Regions from separate parts of the Homo sapiens genome. Here all the other regions are linked to region 4. The links come from fine-mapping of genetic effects on gene expression. A gene starts in region 4. Each other region holds a variant in brackets. All regions are shown on one strand. Distances are from middle to middle. Region 1 overlaps PLXNA4 (plexin A4). Region 2 holds the start of LOC100506937 (a long non-coding RNA gene). Region 3 overlaps PLXNA4 (plexin A4). Region 4 holds the start of PLXNA4 (plexin A4).

Region 1 (4,160 bases), 150 kb before region 4:
TGAAGGGGTTTCCCTCTTCCCATTTTGCTGATGGATAAACTGAGTCTGAGAGCAGGAAGTTGCAGAGAGCTGCAGAGATTTGGGGCCAGAATATCAGTCACATGTATGCCCATCCAGCTTTTCTAGAGATGGTCATGAAGCCAAAGAGGGGAAGTGACATCCTTAATAAAAGCTCATTTCAGCAAAAAAGCTGAGGAATCTGTTTAATTGATCATCACTCCTCCCTTCCACAACAGCACAGGGTTTTAAATGGGACTGGGCTCCCTGTCTGGAATTCTACTCCTCCCTGAAATGATCCGATAACAACAGAGCTGATTGTGACTGGTCCTCCCTCCCCTTCTCTCTCCTGCAGAATGTTTTTCTTCATCCCTGTTTTGTGTCTTCGTAATTGCGTTACTCACATAGCAACACATGGGGATGGCCACACTACAGCCACCACCATCGGGGCCACAAGGAGAAAGCAACAGCATTCTAGGAGAACGCACCACTCCCCATCAGGCCCCCTTGAACCAGGCGGGGCTGCATGGAGGTCAATGCCTCTCAGGGCTGCCCTCCCCTCTGGATCAGCTCCCAGAACATGCCCTTTGCCTCTAACCACGAGCAGGGGTCACCTGAGGCCCTTGATTCTAGCCCCACTTTAGCTTTCCCACAGAGAAGGCTGAGACGTTGAAAGGCATGAGCCCACGCCTCCTCCTCGCCAGGGTCTCAGTGACTCCCCAGCCCCAGGAAGAGGAGCAGGGAGCCCCTCACCCAACATCAGGCCCATGTCTTGGAAACGCAGGGGTTGTGGATTCACATGCTGGTGCTGCTGGTCTGCCCCCCGCTCCCTGGCCTGGGTTTTGCTCCATCTCTGAGCAACTTTTGGAAAAGAGGCAGATCTAGGAAATCCATACCAAGTCCCAATATACTCTATGGCTGAAGGGGCTGAGGAGGGAGCTCAGCTGGAGAGCCCTGGCCCAGGCCCACAAGACAGTAGAGGGGGCACTGCTCCTTGTGGACGTCCAACCAGGCTGATGTCGTCTTCATCCTTCTGTAGGGACCAAAATCTTGGTGGAACCCCCACCCTTCCTGGCAAGTCAGGAGGTCAGTAGAACCCCCCAGGCCAGCATTCCTTTCCCAGCCTCATTCCTGCCCAGGGCTCCCTGTGACCTGCCCCTCCCCCATGTGAGGACACTATACACCCTGGATACTGTCCCCTTTCCATTCCATTTGTAATTGTCCCTGGCAGAAACAGCCTCCCTCAAATGGTGAATTCTCACATAAATGTTTGGGGTGATGCATATCCCAGTTACCCAGATCTGATGGTTACACATTACATACATGTACCAAAACATCACATTATATAATCAATAACAATTTTATACATAAATAAATAGGAAAAAAACGAGGTTCTGCTAGCGTGTGGTTTGGCAGCTGTCAAATCTTGTGCTAGAGCCGAGTCCTGACCATGGTGTGCCCTCCACGCATCGTCCAGCTCACCCATCCTCCCAGGAAGGCCACCCCTCTGCTGGGTGTCAGCATCACGGCACCTGGGTGGGTGAGCCGCTCACTGCCCCGCCCTACCCCAGCTGCCCTCTCTAGCCCCACTGTGCCACGTCCCCTTGGCAAGGCCACTGTCTGGAGTCTGGAACACAGAAAACCATTCCTGGACCCTCCGCACTGCCAAGTCTGTAAAAGAGCAGGCGCCTAGCCTCTCTCCTTGGAGGCTCAGGCCATGTCAATCTCTTCTACGTCTCCCTAGTGCCAAGATAATAAGGGGGAAAGTTTTTTTCTCCTCCTTCCAGAGTGCAGACCAATTAGCATTTTTTAAATTACCATTGGAGAAATACACCTAATTAGCCACTTTAAAGGAAAGCTTTAAAAAAAAAAGTCATAAATTTCTAACTGGCCACAGCTTGGAGACACTTTTAAAGCTAATTGTGTGTTTCTGGCACTGACAGGGGAATTGGTGAAAGTAAGAGACCGATTTTATGACCTTGGTGGGAAAGGGGAGGGGAAGGCTGAATGACGTCCTTAGGCCAAGAAAGGGTTAATGTCTGTCTCC[C/T]GGAACCCCAGGCCCCTCCTGGCTCCTCCTCCCCTTCCTCACCCTCCCTCATCAGATCCCCACCTCTCCCCACCTTGAGCCCTGCCTTACCCCAGTCAGGGGTACCTGCCTTAGAAGAGGCAGACAGGAAGGCAGACAGGCAGGCAGGCAGACAGGGCCACACACTCAGCCAGAAAATCATACAAGGAGGAAGAAAAGGGCAGAGGACAAAGAGAGAGGAGAAGGACAGGGGAAACAGAGAAGAAAGAAACATTTGAGGAAACTGAGAGAAAGGAACCAAAGCCAAATTCCAGAAGGCTGTTTCTCATTTGTGCTTCCTATTAAACTCTCCATCGAGGTGGGGGCGGGAGCTGGGGGCTCTGGCCTGCTCTTGAACATGGTGCCTCCCTCAGACAGTTCCAGTGGAGGCAGACAGGGGCTTCTGCAGCCCTCGGGCCTCCTGCCCAGGCTCCCTGACCCTGCTCAGTGGCCCCAACTCCCTGTCCCTGAAACTGAGAAAACTCTTCATAAAGTGCAGGCACAGGACTCTGGGGTGCCTCATTTAGGAGGAAGGTGGCACAGGGCAGTTTCTGGTTGCTCCCAGCCTCTGCCACTGCTGTGGATTCATTCCTGCCTCAGAAAAGGGGAAAGAGGGCCTCTCCCAGGGGGAGATCAGTGTACAACTGGAGGAGTGTCAAGAAGTGCGGCCAAGCAAGAGAAGATGCCCAGAGCAACTGCACAGGGCCTCCATCATCCTGCAGAGCCCACCGCCATGGCTCATCAGCCCTTCAATGGCCCCCGGTGATGACCCAGTAGAGCGGCTAAGGTGATGGGGGTGGGGGTCCTCTCCCTCAGGAACACCCCTCCACTGGCTGGGTTGCCGGGCAGGAGTTAGGGTAGGAACAGGACAGTATAGATGTATTGTCTCCACCTCTGTCTGAGGCACACAGTGTGACCAGCGCTGTCATGTCTGCCCAACCCTAGCTCAGTGTCATGCCCACCTGACACTAGGTGTGGCCTCCCTGTTGGTTGAAGGGGCAGCAGCAGGTGTTTGCATTCTATACATGGAAACTTAGAGGCCCAGAAACACTGAGGCAAATTTGCTCTAGTAGCAGATTTAGTACCATCTAAAGTCCTGGGAGGCACATTCTTCATTCACTGAGACCCTCCTTTCTATAGCTTAAGTGAGAGTCTGGAGAAATTACAGACAGTTTCAAAACATATAGTCTTCTGGAAAGCCCAGAACATGCATTCTCAATGGGTACAAGAGTGCTCCCCAGAGGGTGAAAATTAGAGGGCAAAAGAAAAAAAAATCTTAGATATAATGATTTGTGGCCCTCCAAAGGTCAACATTACTCAATAAATTCACATGTCGTCTCATTAAAGAGAATTTAAATTAAATTTAACTTGTCTCTAAGGGGGAAAAGGTGATTTTTAAAAAGCTGAGAAATGCTGACCTAGGGCAGTAGCCCCTAGAGTCCTAGAGTCCCACAGGCCAGAGCTGGATCCACTCACCTGTACCCCCTTGGGACCAAGCTCAGCATATGAAACAAGAAATGGGGCCCAGGAGGGGATTCTTCCCCAGAACTAGTCAGTGACTCCTACTGAAGACACTCACAAACTTTAAAAGTGGTGGGAGACTTGAGCAACCTAGCAGGGCAACTGGGTAAGACACTGCAATGCTGTCTCTTCTGCCAGGGCAGAGGGAAGAGCTTCTGGGAGACAAAAGACCTTGGGGCCTCTTCCTGCTCCTCACCCCAGACCTTAAAGCCTTCAGAGAAATGGCGCACTGGACGTCTGAGCTCCAGGAGGTTGACTGAGGGCAGGATTGGAGTGCAGGGCTGGAAGGATTCATGACCTTAAAAACAGCCAGGGGAGCTGGGGTGCCCCAAGTAGAAGACTAGGGTCTACAGCGCCCCATCAGAGCCCCTCACACTCTTCCTTTTTTCCTCCCCTCTCTGGTTCCAGAGGCTGGGAAAGAGGGAAGAGAAATAACTACACAGCAGAATGGACAGGCCCCCACCCACCCAGTCATAAACTCATGGGTGACAATTGTGGGGGCCCTCACCTCCACCCCTAAAAGAATTGAACCTGGGCTAGCTCCTCTAAGCGAGTAGTACAGCTTTCAGCCTAACAA
Region 2 (4,160 bases), 180 kb after region 4:
GCTGTGCCCATTTCACCATGGAAATCAGAGTCCTCCCTCAAACAAGAACCTACTACGGTCATCATAACTTGCATATTTCACTTAGGATTTCCCTTCATCCTGGCAGCAGTGAGTGCTTCCGCCAGAGCCCAGCTTTCTCAGGTAGTCACCACACTGGAGGCTCCCAAGGCCCATCACATGGGGAGCTTCTGTGACGCCTGCTGCTAAAAGCCTGTGTTCCAAGAACTGTTTCCTAGATTCTCATGTTCAATCTAGTTTCTCTGTCTATGGTCAGTTAGCTTCGGCACATAAGCCAGCATTTAAAAGGCGTTCAGGTGGTAAATGATTCTACCCACCTGTGTAATTGAAGAAACAGTCATCTCAGTCATCCGCAAGATCACCCTCAATTCTGACGCCAACTGTAAGGTTTGACGGGTTCTCAAGACTACCCATAGGTTTGATAATTTACTAGACAGACTCATGGAACTCACTAAAAGCTGTTATACTCACAATTATGGTTTATTACAGCTACAGGATACAGATTAAAATTAGCCAAGGGAAGATGCACAAGGCATGAGGACTCTTCCAGCCCCAGCTTATCATCTGCCCAGGTCCTCCAGCAAATTCCCTTTCTCCACAAGGAACAGGGCACATGGCCAGGGTCCTTCTCAGCTCTCTTCCCTCCATCTCCCATCTTGCTAAGACAGGACCTGTCCCAAGTCTCGCCCTCCCAGGGTCCTGGTAGGGAAGTAGCAAATTCACTTTGTAGAAGGAACTAAGGCATTACAACTAATAACATTGCCAGATGGCATTTGCCCTTTAACAAGGCTCCGAGACCTGACCTCAAAAGAGACCAGTGGCAGAAGAGATGCTTCTGCTTTCATAGGGAGTTACCTGGTGCCAACCCCACCCACAGAAGCAAAGAGAAGGAACTAAGGCGTTACAACAAATAATGTTGCCAGATGGCATTTGCCCTTTAACAAGGCTCCAAGACCTGACCTCGAAAGAGACCAGTGGCAGAAGAGATGCTTCTGCTTTCACAGGGAGTTACCAGGTGCCAACCCTGCCCACAGAAGAAAAGAGACCCCAAGAAATTGGCCAGCCCAACAGCTTTATGCCATCTGAACCCTGCAAAAGTCACAGAGATGTAAAACAAGCTGAAGAGATTCCATAAGTCACCTGGGGGGGTGCCATGCTCCAGACATTGCAGAGTCTGGTTCTAGAGGCCTGGAGAGGCCCATTGCCTCTGCTTCACCTCTGCCTTACCTTGCCTCAGCCATTTTCCCCAGTAGCAAAAGGGCCCTTCTGCCCTCTGCTCCCAAAGAACCTGCCTGAGCAGGCCCAGACCCTGTGTTCTCCAGCCCAGCATTACCCTGGGAAGTTCGATGGGGGAGGCAGGGACTTCATCTTTTTCATCTCCAAGTGCCACAGTGCCCTGTGGATAACAATGGCATCCACAGTGCTTAGTGGACAAGAATGGCATTGCCAGCTCCCCACAGCTGCACCAGCCCTGGCTCTGATCCCAGGCTGCAAAAAAAAAAAAAAAAAAAAAAAAAAAAAAAGGCAGGCAGGCCACTAGCACTCACTTATTTCCCAAGGATTAGGTCAGCCCCACACACAGTGTCTTCCAGACACTGGGAGAGGCCAGGTGCAGACCGCCAGAGATTCAGTGTAAAGCCTGCCAATCGGCCAATACCAGATGTTCAAGATGAAAATCTCATCTTCCCAAATGCTGAAGGGGTCCAGTGGATCAGGGACACTTGTCCCCAGGGTGTCCTGGCAGCTGAACTCAGCACCTTCTCTCCCACCTGTTAGCCATGAGGGCAGAGACACCTAGTATCCAAGGGCCAGGAGACACAGCACAGGAGTGGAATGCACTCGACACAGACGATTACCTTTCAAACGCTCCTCCTTCAACATCAGAACAAAGACTAGCCCAGTGGCCCAGACTTCCCTTACCACTTCCTTTATTTAGGAGGCCATGAACCCAGTCCTTCTTCTCAGCCCTGCCTCTGGGTTCAGGAACCAAGGCTAGACCTGCTTGTAGCTAATATGTGCCATGTGGCTTTTCATCTCAACTTTGTCACTTATTGTCTGTGACCTTGAGCCTTTTAAACTCTCCTCTGCCGATTACTCCTCTCTGAAATGGGAGTAAACTAACTTCCCAGAGAAGTCCTGTGGAGGAGTGAGGTGACACATGCCAAGAAGAGACAGGAACACCTGGAGATGCAGCAAACACTATTTTTATTTCATACCTGAAAGCAACAGTCTCTCTATGGAGT[C/T]GGCTGTGTTGGCTTTTACGCCCATAATGTTTGTGGTCGGATCATGTCTGTATTTAAACTAAACACAGTATTTAAGCCACCAGAAATAAGAAAACAAAGAGGAGAAAATTCCATCACATAGGTTTTTTTTTTTACTTCAGTCTATTCATCCAGATGGTGATAATTAGTGGGCTCGCCTGTCTGCACCTGTCATTGTTTATGTACGCGTTCTACCTATAGGAATGTGCGGGGAACTTTCTAGACGCATGAAGAGTGATGCTGTGGAATCTGATACAGCCTACAGTTCTAGGATTCACCCTTGGTTCTTTTGCAGAGTCAAGAATAGTCTTGGTGCTAGAGGGACCAAGCCAGCAAAGATTTGCACTGCCAGCCAAGGGACTTATTTCCCTGCCTCCAACAGTTTTGCCGTCACTAAAGCTGCTACACATGCTGAGCTTAAATGCCTGCTTATAGCAAAAGCAGCCATGTCAGTCACTTAATGTTTCTTAAGAATCCCTGTCTTTGTCCATTTTGTTTTGCTATTAAAAGAAAAAAAAAAACCTGCCACTGGATAATTTATAAAGAAAAGAGGTTTATTTAGTTCAGGGTTCTGCAGGCTGAGAAGTTCAAGGGCATGGCCCTGGCTTCTGGCGAGGGCTTTCCTGCTGCATTGACACAGGGAGAAAGGTCAAAGGGGAAGTGAATATGTGCGGAGAGGGGGAATCCTGAGGGGTCTCCAGCTATATAACAACCCACTCTCATGGGAACAAATCCACTCCTGTAAGAACAGCTCACTACTGCCTGAACAGCACCACATCATTCATGCGAGATCCCTCCCCATGACCCAAACACCTCCTGCCAGGCCCCACCTCCCAACATCACCACACCGGGGATCAAATTTCAACTTGAGTTTTGGTGGGGACAAACAAACCACATCCAAACCACTGCAAATCCCATACATACCAGGGCTCCACTCCAGACCCACTGAATTGAATCCTTTGGGGATGGTGCCTGAAAAAAATATATTTTAAACACCCAAGGGGTTCTGACACTTGGTTGAGTTTGGGATCTTCTGGACTGGAAGGAACTCTCAGGCTTTGAGTGGAGACCTTGGATCTGTTCCAGGTTTTGCCAATAACTTTCTGTTGTCCCTGCGTGACTTTGGGCACGTCACTTTCCTGTGTACTGTCTCTAAGAATGTTGGATTCTGATAAGTCAATTCCCACTTGTGTCCCTGGAGCCCTAGGGTTTCCTCGGAGGCTCCAGAAGTTTCTAAGGGGTCAGTAGAATGAAGACAGTAGGTTGGGCTCTGGATTCCCTGCCTCGAGAGTTAATCCTAGGAGCTGCTAAAGGTCTATTTACAAAGCTTCACATGAAGCCAGATCAACATCTGGGAACATCTGCCTGGGATGCAGGACATGGGCAGCCCCAGAACTAGTTTCAGGTGGCTTACATGGGCATGGTTATTGCAGAAATCACATTTTAAAAGTGTTAATCTCATCAAGAGACTTGGACTGTGGCATCTTTATTTCTGTGAGTTGTGACTTTCTCGTCCTTGGAAGTAAGGAGTGAACTAGACTCCACAAACGAGTTTAACATTTTGCCCTTCTAATTGTCTACACCAAATCCATGCCTCCCTCCCCTGTGAGCAGACTTTGGTAGAATGTTCCTCATGCCTTCAACCAGGGTGAGCCAGACGAGCCCCGGGGAACACGATGCATGACCTTGGCCTTGTTACCATGTGCAATGTATTGAATTGCAGACCTCCAAAATTTATATATTGAAGCCCTAGTCCCAGTATGACTGTACTTGGAGAGCCTTTATGGAGGTGACTAAGGTTAAGTGAGGTCATAAAGGCGGAGTTCTAATTTAATAGGATTGGCGCCCTTATAAGAAGAGGAAGAGAGAGATCGCTTTCCA
Region 3 (4,160 bases), 91 kb before region 4:
GAGTCTTCACTGGTATTGACATCAAGATTCTATTCTCCTATCCAGAGTCTAGCAGGTGTGAGCCCAGCAGTAAAAGGACCACTTATGGTTGGGGGCTCATTCCCTCTTCTTGCCTCTGCCTCCTCCCTCTTCCTCTGTACATCATGTCTTTCATCCTTTCCCATCTTTGTTGTCTTGGTTACATGGCCAGACTCCTAATATGCTGCTAGTTTTCATTTTAATGATATGTTTTTGTAAAGCACAATATTTTACTTCAATTGCATGTGTCACTGGATAAATTCCTCTAGTGCGTCTGACATTTGTGTATCAGCTGACTGAATGCGCTCTATGATTTGGGGTGTTTGTGCAGCACTTTCTTCAATTTTAATGTGTTTGCATTTTAATTTATGATCAGGATCTTTCTATACCAATGTGTGTATATATACACACATATGATTCAAAAAAGTGGCACACGTATCAATAAATCTTGAATTGGCAAAGCTCATTTAAGACTATCTCTTTAAATCATGTGCACTAGCAATGATCACTTGGAAAACAGAATGACAAGTGTTCCTGAGAAACTCTTTGCTGGGATTTCAATGTGTGTTTCAGGAGGAAGTCAGGAGGAGAATGCAACAATGCCTAGCTATTGGCTGCAGTAGAAATTTCACGATGAGAACACCTCCCCGGGTTTATTCAGGTCAGCAAGGAGGGACCACTTGAGATCCCCCAGGGATGTGCAGGGAAGGTGGGTGGGCCCAAGGGCAGAATAGTGAGAAATGGAAAAAGATAAGAAAAGAGGGCCAGTGTGGCCACACTTACATCAAAAGGGTGATTGAGTGAGGGCTTAATAGTGTTCAAGAATATAAAATATGTCCAAGAGGATATCAACCAGCTTAGTTGCTCTTTTAGTCAACTGAGTAAAACTTGGGAAGAAAGCTTAAAACATAGCAGAAGAGATTGAAACAAGGTGGGAGGAAGGCCCATGAGAAGTGGATACATTGGTCTGAGGCAAGATCAGTCTGAAGGGCCAGTCTTAGAATTCCCAGGCTGGAAAGACTAACGACAGAATGCCGTCTGTCTGTGGTTGAACGTGAAATCAGAGGAGGGAGGGTGGCACGCTGGCACACCTGTGGGATCTTCTGCCTGGAGCCCTTCAACCTCAGCCTCCCCTTCACACAACCCACAGGGTAAGGTCTATGCAGGTTTAATATTTGCAAAACCAGGGATGGAAAATGCAGACACAATATAGCAAATAGAGGGTCTTTTCCTGTCATGGAAATCGGTCAGCCCTGATGCTTCTGCATTTCTTTCCCTTTGTGCTTGTGATCAATCACACATGAACCCATGGCAGCTTGGGCTGGAGAAACATATAGCACAACAGAACTACCTGACCGAACCCTGTATCAAATACATATGCCCTCTGCCCTAACCACATGTTCCTAGTCTATTTGGTGTTCCAACATTGTATCTCCATTTGATTTCCTGACACTTCCATCCATCTGCAGGGCTTTCTGTGCTATGAATATTTATTTTTAGTTAAAGTGGATTCAAATTTCCAGAGTAATTTTAGGAAGAATTCCCAGGTACATTTAGGAAGCAACAAAGCAGAGGCTGGACTCTCTGATCTGATATTGCTTTGTGACTTGAGCACTGAAGATACACACACAGCATCTGTTCCTGAGAAGCAATGTTCGCCCCAGGTGGGTCTCCCTCCACTCCAATCCACTCCTGGGTGATTCCCCCTTGTGGACCTGTGCCGAAGGACTAGGGAACAAAAGCAAATTAATTTTAAAACAGGCTTGAGAAAAAAAAATTAGGAAGATTAAATTAATCTACATGACAATTCCCAATAAGAATGGTTTTTGTACTATATACTCCTATTGCCTCTTCATGGGAATGTGCACCCAGTACCTATTCAGAGAGGCTGGTATGGATTAGTCTGTGCACAGACACATGGATGCATGTCCCGCAACAGGCTAATAGCAGGGCCAGCCAGAGTTCCGCTTAACCAACATCCATACAGCGCTCCACCCCCTTAGGTGTGAACAGTTTAACCTAGCAAAAACATCCAGGGAAGACGCAATCACCAGCGAGAGGAGCAATCACACCTCAAGTGGAAGTTTATGATGTTTTGGTTCACAATGAACATTAGTCTCTCCCACTAATGTCAGGCAGTAATTCACCACTGAACAGCAGCCATAAAAATGATCGCTTAGTGAAAGGAAAGCAAGAGGCAGAGAAAGCAAGAGAGGGAAAAGATTCCAGCAGAAATATTCAAGCAAAGAAATCTCGTGCTTCTGAGACAACACTGAGCTGATTGTCCCAACTCAAGCCAAAGATTTAGGTTTGCTTGGCCCTAAAGCCAGTCAAGATGGCATTTGCCTTA[T/C]GATTTTTACCTATAGTGGAAATGTTAACAGTCTGTAGGTTATTGCTAAGTTCCTAGACACCTGCTTATGACTGTAGTATTTATAGGTCATATTTCTTAACACACATACCCTTAAAGCTCACCACAGGAAGAGGCTGCCAATACCATCTGCAACACACACACATCAGAAAACATCAAAGACATCTAAATTGGCACTTTCCTCACCTCCTTTCCCCCCGCTTCATGTGACGTGTGCACTAAAGGAGTGAAATTACGGTCGTCAAAGACAAGGTTGCAAATGATTGGGACTCATGCCTTTCAAGCAAAATAAAAAGTAATTTTGAGAGCAGCCCACGGATAGCTCGGTCTAGCTCCTGGACCCCTGAAACCCACAGCAAACACCCTTACTCTTAGCATCCCCCCAAGCTCTCTCCTGCCCACCTACCCCCATTTCCAGTCTCTTGTCATACCGTAAAGAACTCTGAAAGGTCCTTGATACACACAGGAGATTATTACAGGGCTCAGAGAAACCAACTCTGTAATTATGGCTACAGTATGATTTCCATTATTCTCACGCCCTGGCCTCAGTCACTTGCAAAACTTCCAGCAAAATCCTCCTGCAGCTCCACAACTTGTCACGGCTGGGCCTCTGCCCAAAAGGTGACTGTGGTCCTGATAACCTCTGGGAAAAGCAAGTCAGAATTATTACAAGGAAAGGGGAGTGGTGCTTAGTGAGTGAGTGGGGGTGGGGAATTCTATTGTTCAAGAAAAAATAAATAAATGGGCCACTTTTGCTTTTTATTATTTCAAACAACAGACTCGGCAGCCCAGCCTTCCTTTCCCAACTCAGACTGTTCCCCTGGGCCAGCTGTGCTGAGTCTGCAGGCACGGGAGCCGGGCTTGAGCAAAACCATTAAAAGGCTGCCACTCCAAGCCTGCAGAGCAGAAAGTTTGGCCGCCCCAGTGGCCTGGCTTTCCCCGGGAGGACCGAAGGCTCATTCCCCCCAACTGACCCTTGCGCTCTTACCTTTCAAATGTTTATGCCTCACCAGCCCCACCACTGCTCTGGAAATTAGATAGAATATCCCAGGTGGCTGAAACAGAACTGTTCTTATATCAACCTACCAAAGTAAAAGATGGGAATGCCGGCCGCGGTTTATGAAGCCCCAGCCTCTTGGTGGGGTATTGCCTGTGTCACCTGTCACTGCCTGCCTGACCGACTGCTGGACTCTGTCCTTACCTGCCTCAGGAGGGTTGTCTCTGAGCGCCTTGCTGGCCCAGGCTCCTGGGGGTGTCCTGATCCCAAACTCATGGTGCTGCACTTGACCTCCCTGTCGGGGAACAGATTTGGACAGGCTTCCACAGGCAAGAGAGTACCAGTCACCAAATGCCTCAACCCACCCTTGGACAAACAGCACAAAAATGCAAGTTGACTATCTTGGGTTTACAATGCAGCCATGGTCAGGAAACACCTTCCTTTTTCCAAGAGAAAATAACTGTTTTGTTATGTGCACTGAACTCTCAATGTTCATTTCATTGATAACATTCACTGCCCAACCAGCTCAGACAATCACACACACACACAAATCCTCATCCAGGGTCTACTCCATCCTGCCAGCTAGTAAATGGTCCTCTGGCAGCTGGTAGGAAATTCAGCGGGTAAGACTCTTTTAGGGCAAGGCAGGAAGTTACTTCTACATTGCACTGAGATTGAGCTCACCGGAGAAAAGAGTTAAAGCATCCCCCATACTGCTTGCTGACTTATTTACTCTTAATGGTGCTCATTCACCCATTGCAGCAGGTGAAGCAGGTC
Region 4 (4,160 bases):
GTCACACATGGCGGGGGCGGGGAGCTGACCACATTTAGCCAGACTCTGAGAACGCATGTGTGTATATATATTGGGTGTGTGTGTGCACACGCCCACCATTCTTAAAAAGCAAATAAGGTTTCTTCCCCCTACTGGGGTCTCTCCATTGTGAGAGATTTGCTTTATTCCATCTATGCTTTTCAATCAATCAAAGGGCAGCTCACACAGCACACAGCGGGAATACAATCTCCCTCCCGGGGTGTCTGCGCTTCTCCCCAGCCTAGCCAGAGACCTTTGCAGGAGCTGAAAAAAGTTTGGAAATAGCGGAGTCAGGGTGCTGAAAAAGCCCTTTCATTCAGCCCCTATCTTCAGGATTTACAAAAACAACCCAAATTCTGAGCCTAGCACTGAGGCCTCCTTGTTCAAAAGAATGTTTGCTCCTCTTCCATCATGTTCTGTAAGGCTCCTAACATATTTTTTCCACTGGTGGGTCTGTGGGATACTCTGAACACATGATCTTGGACAGAGGGTACAAGCTTATTCAGTTTTGTGGGAAAATGATATGATCATGTTGCCTAGAAAGCTACCTCAAAGTGACAGCACCAGAAACACAGGAGCTTGTACATATATATTCAATTCCGAATTTGATTTGGATCTCATGTTCTTCTCCCTATGACAACTGAGACCCTAAATTAGTTGCTCTTAGACCCCAAGAAGGGAACTATGGAAAAGCCTCTTAGAACCCCAGCCACTTCCTACCTCCTCCAGAAAAAGTTAAAATGAGCAGCCTGTGAAATTCCAGCCAGAGAGAACAAGAATGAAAATGCTTTCGGGAAATAGGACCTTAAAGCACGGGCGTCTGGGGAGTGATTCTACAATCGGAGCAGGCTTGGGCTCTGGGGGACGCTGGCAGACCCACGAATGCCTTGCCTTCTCCGGTGGGCAGTGCCGCCACGGTCGTGAGGGAGGGGAGCCTCCTCTTTTGGAGGACTATATCCCTCGTGCTTCCCCCTTCTAGTTCTCTTTCTCAGACACACACCACGAAAGGCATGTGACAGGTGTTCGCCAGCCGGAGGCACCGGGGAAGGCAGCCCCATGTGCCCAGGGAGGGTAGGGAGGTGAGAGGGGACCCAAGTCCTGTGTCTCCAAGTCCTGTCTGCTTGCTGCTAAGCAGGCACTGAGGCTGTGAATAAGGTCTTACCTTTTAAGGAGGATCTGACCCCCGTACCTTCCCTAGACAAGCAACATACGCGGCGATGCTTTAAGCCGCTTTCTGCCTGAAATCTCGGCGCATTCCCGGGGAAGCAGTGCCACGCTTCAGAAAGGCGTTTGTGCTGCCTCTTACTGGGGAAACGCAGTGTCTGTTTCATATGCGCCGCCCTACAGAACTGCAGCCCCAACCGCCTATCTGGCCTCCTCCCCGGGCGCTGGGCCACCACTCTCTCCAAATATGCGTCCGAATATCTGTGGGTCTGTCTCCCGTTGAAATCCCAGGGTGTCCAAAGGCCACGGGGCCGCGATGACACTGGGTAGGTCTCCGGAAACCTCTCAGGACTTCTCCCATTTTAAAGCCCAGCTAGGGACGAAAGGGGCTGGGAGCTGAAAAATTGCTCCCTCAACCTCCCCGGGTGGGAGGCAGAGCCGGGAATACACAGAATCCCACCCCGAAAGTCCCGGGAAAGAGAAGTCTGAGTCCAGGAGCGTGAGAGGAGAACACACCCGGGAAATCCCTGCTCCGGCCGCTGCACCTCCGCGGGCGTCCAGGTGGGACGTGGGCAGGTGCGCGAGCGCCGTGTGTGCCGGTGTGGATCTGTGTGTGTGCCTGCGTGTGTGCGTGTGCGTGTGCCGCGGGCTGGCTCCGGGACACTGAGGACTCCCGGGTCGGCCCAGGTCTGTCCGACCTTGCTGCCCTCGCCGCCCGCCCGGCCCCACTCCCCGGCGGGCCGGCTCCTTACCTGGACGCGCCGCGTTTCCCTCCTTCAGCGGGAGCGCCGCATTGACACTGCAGATGGAGCCTATGCCGCTGCCTCTCGCCCTCCTCTGAACGTGTGCGTGTGCGCGCGTGTGGCTGCCTCCTCCAGCCCCAGCCCCGAACGCAAATACTCCACCGAGGCACAGGGAAGCCGGGAGCAGCCGAGGAACGCGGAGGGCGCCGAATCAGAGCCTGCGGGGCTTGACAGCTTCTCTTGCGGCGTCCAAGGTGGGCGTAATGTCCAACAAAAAGGTCGGAAAATGGGGATCGATTCCGAACACCCCTTTCCTCCACCCAGCCCCGGAGCCCGAGCAGCGGCGGCGGCTCTCGGGGGCTGCGGTGGCGACGCCGGGCTGCCCCCCTTCGTCCCCACCCCCGCGGGCTGAATGTCCTTGATGCCAAGCGGGCACAGCGGCGTCACTCCGCGCCGCCCATGCTCGCCCGGTCGGGCCGCTGCCCGGGCGCGGCGAGTGCGCGGGGGACCCGCCGGGGAGCGCTCTCGGCGCCTCTGCGCGCCTCTCTGGGTAGCGGCGGCCGCCCCCCGGCAGCCCGCGGCCGGCCGCGCCGCGGCAGCCCCCACCCTTGCCGAGACACTCGCCGGGCAGTGCCCTGGGGCCGGGGCTGGGGGGCCGCGGGAGCCGCCGGCTGCTCCCCGGGGAGGCGCGGGGCTGCGGCGGTGGTGGCTGCGGCGGCTGGCGCTGCGGCGGCGGAGAGCTCGGCCGCGGGCCGAGCCGGGCCTCCCGGGCGCGCCCCCGGCCCCCCGGGCGGGCTGCTCGCAAAGTTTGCAGGGGGCAGGGAGCGGGGCCGCCGCTGGCTCGGCCGCCGCCGGAGCTCCCGGGCTGCCTGCTGCCGCCGCGGCTCGCTGCTGCTGTGCATTGAAGCCCGGCCAAGCGCTGCAAAAACTCCAGCTGCCTGGCGCTCTCTGGGTCCTCCTCTCCTCCCTCCCGCCCTCCCTGCTTCCCTTCCTCCCTCCCTCGCCTCGCCTCCTCTCCTCCCTGCCGCCCGCCGCCCGCCGCCGCTCCCTCTCTGGCTCGCTCTCGCTGGCTCGGAGCTCGCGGCTGACATCTAGAGCGAGGGAGAGCGGCCGGCAGAGGGGGCAGGGGGCGCCTCCCTACATGCTCCCACCCGCCGCCGCCCGGCTTGCCGGCTCTCCTCCGCACCAACGTTTGCCGACACCCCCCTGGGTCCCCTCGGCCCGCACGGAGCTACCCTGGCGGTGGCGATGTGGGGCGGAGAGAGGGGCATACATGGGTGACCGGAGCGCACGGCGCGCGCTCAGAGGGAGGCGCTCAGCCGCCTCGGAATTTGCAGCTCTGGGCGCTGGCCGTCGGAGGGACCCTCAGGTGCTCAGAGCTGACACAAGCGCACACTGACTCTGAGGCATACACCCATTGCTAGTCAGAACCCCTCCCAACACCCCACCAAGTCACCCCCACATGGCACCCAAGGAGGCCGAGGACACTGAGGGCACAAGGCCCGCACGAGAGAACATGAGTGGCCAGTGCCCCAGAGCTGGCTTGGTAACCTGACTTTTCCATTCATGTTTATACTGAGCGGCTCTCCTGGCTCCTCTCTTCTCTGAAACCCTAGATCCTAGACTACATCCAGAACAGACCATGCCAACATCAGGGTGGTTTCTGAAGCCCAAAGAAAGAAATCACCATGTAGCTCTGGTTTAGGCAGTGAAGATGGGGAGTGGGTGGCACTACCTCCCAAACCTCTGCCTAGATCCCCCTAGGAATGGGCCCACCCACCAAGAGAAACCGAAGGGATTCCCACACCTGTTAACTCAACTCTGTGCATGCCACCCTCATCCTCATACCCGCTCCCACCATAGTCTGAGGGAAGTGGCACCTTCAGCAGAGTCCAGTAAGCATTCCCTGGGATAGGCAACCAGCAAGGACGACCCTCTAAAGGAGCCCATGGCTCTTGGCCTCCTCTCTCCTGTCCCTTCTTTAGTTTTCACTGTCCTCACACCCAGAAACTCCCGCCCATTACTGTCCCTCCCATCGAAACATCTCAGAGCCTCCTTATTAGGTGGACATGACTGATAATGGCTTAAATGCCTATACCTCCCTATAGGGGTTATATTCTCACAGAAATCGAAGTTGTGTGAATTGGGGAGCCTTTGAAAGGAGCTGTGAGATGACAGCTTAAACAAGCCCCAAGGTGAGCGGCACATATAGGTCAGGCTTGGCCCACCCAGAGA

What was found. PIP is the estimated chance that this variant, and not a neighbour inherited with it, causes the effect. A credible set is the group of variants that fine-mapping cannot tell apart.
Region 1: its variant is the best candidate, but not a certain one, in a credible set for the expression of PLXNA4 in whole blood (TOPMed, PIP 0.65).
Region 2: its variant is the best candidate, but not a certain one, in a credible set for the expression of PLXNA4 in whole blood (INTERVAL, PIP 0.86).
Region 3: its variant is the best candidate, but not a certain one, in a credible set for the expression of PLXNA4 in whole blood (INTERVAL, PIP 0.89).

What each region holds. Positions count from the first base shown.
Region 1 is chr7:132,423,437-132,427,596 of GRCh38, forward strand. All of the region lies in intron 3 of PLXNA4 (plexin A4), which reads right to left. Among named protein-coding and RNA genes, the nearest start is that of PLXNA4-AS1, 73 kb to the left of the region's middle. RefSeq lists an enhancer at 2,260-2,957. The variant C/T (reference allele first, on the strand shown) is at 2,045.
Region 2 is chr7:132,754,848-132,759,007 of GRCh38, forward strand. LOC100506937 (a long non-coding RNA gene) reads left to right here and starts at 4,123. Exons shown (of 2, transcript NR_134332.1): 1 at 4,123-4,160. The variant C/T (reference allele first, on the strand shown) is at 2,262.
Region 3 is chr7:132,483,268-132,487,427 of GRCh38, forward strand. All of the region lies in intron 3 of PLXNA4 (plexin A4), which reads right to left. Among named protein-coding and RNA genes, the nearest start is that of PLXNA4, 91 kb to the right of the region's middle. The variant T/C (reference allele first, on the strand shown) is at 2,369.
Region 4 is chr7:132,574,488-132,578,647 of GRCh38, forward strand. It overlaps PLXNA4 (plexin A4), which reads right to left and starts at 1,983. Exons shown (of 32, transcript NM_020911.2): 1 at 1,935-1,983. RefSeq lists enhancers at 467-1,444, 1,445-2,422.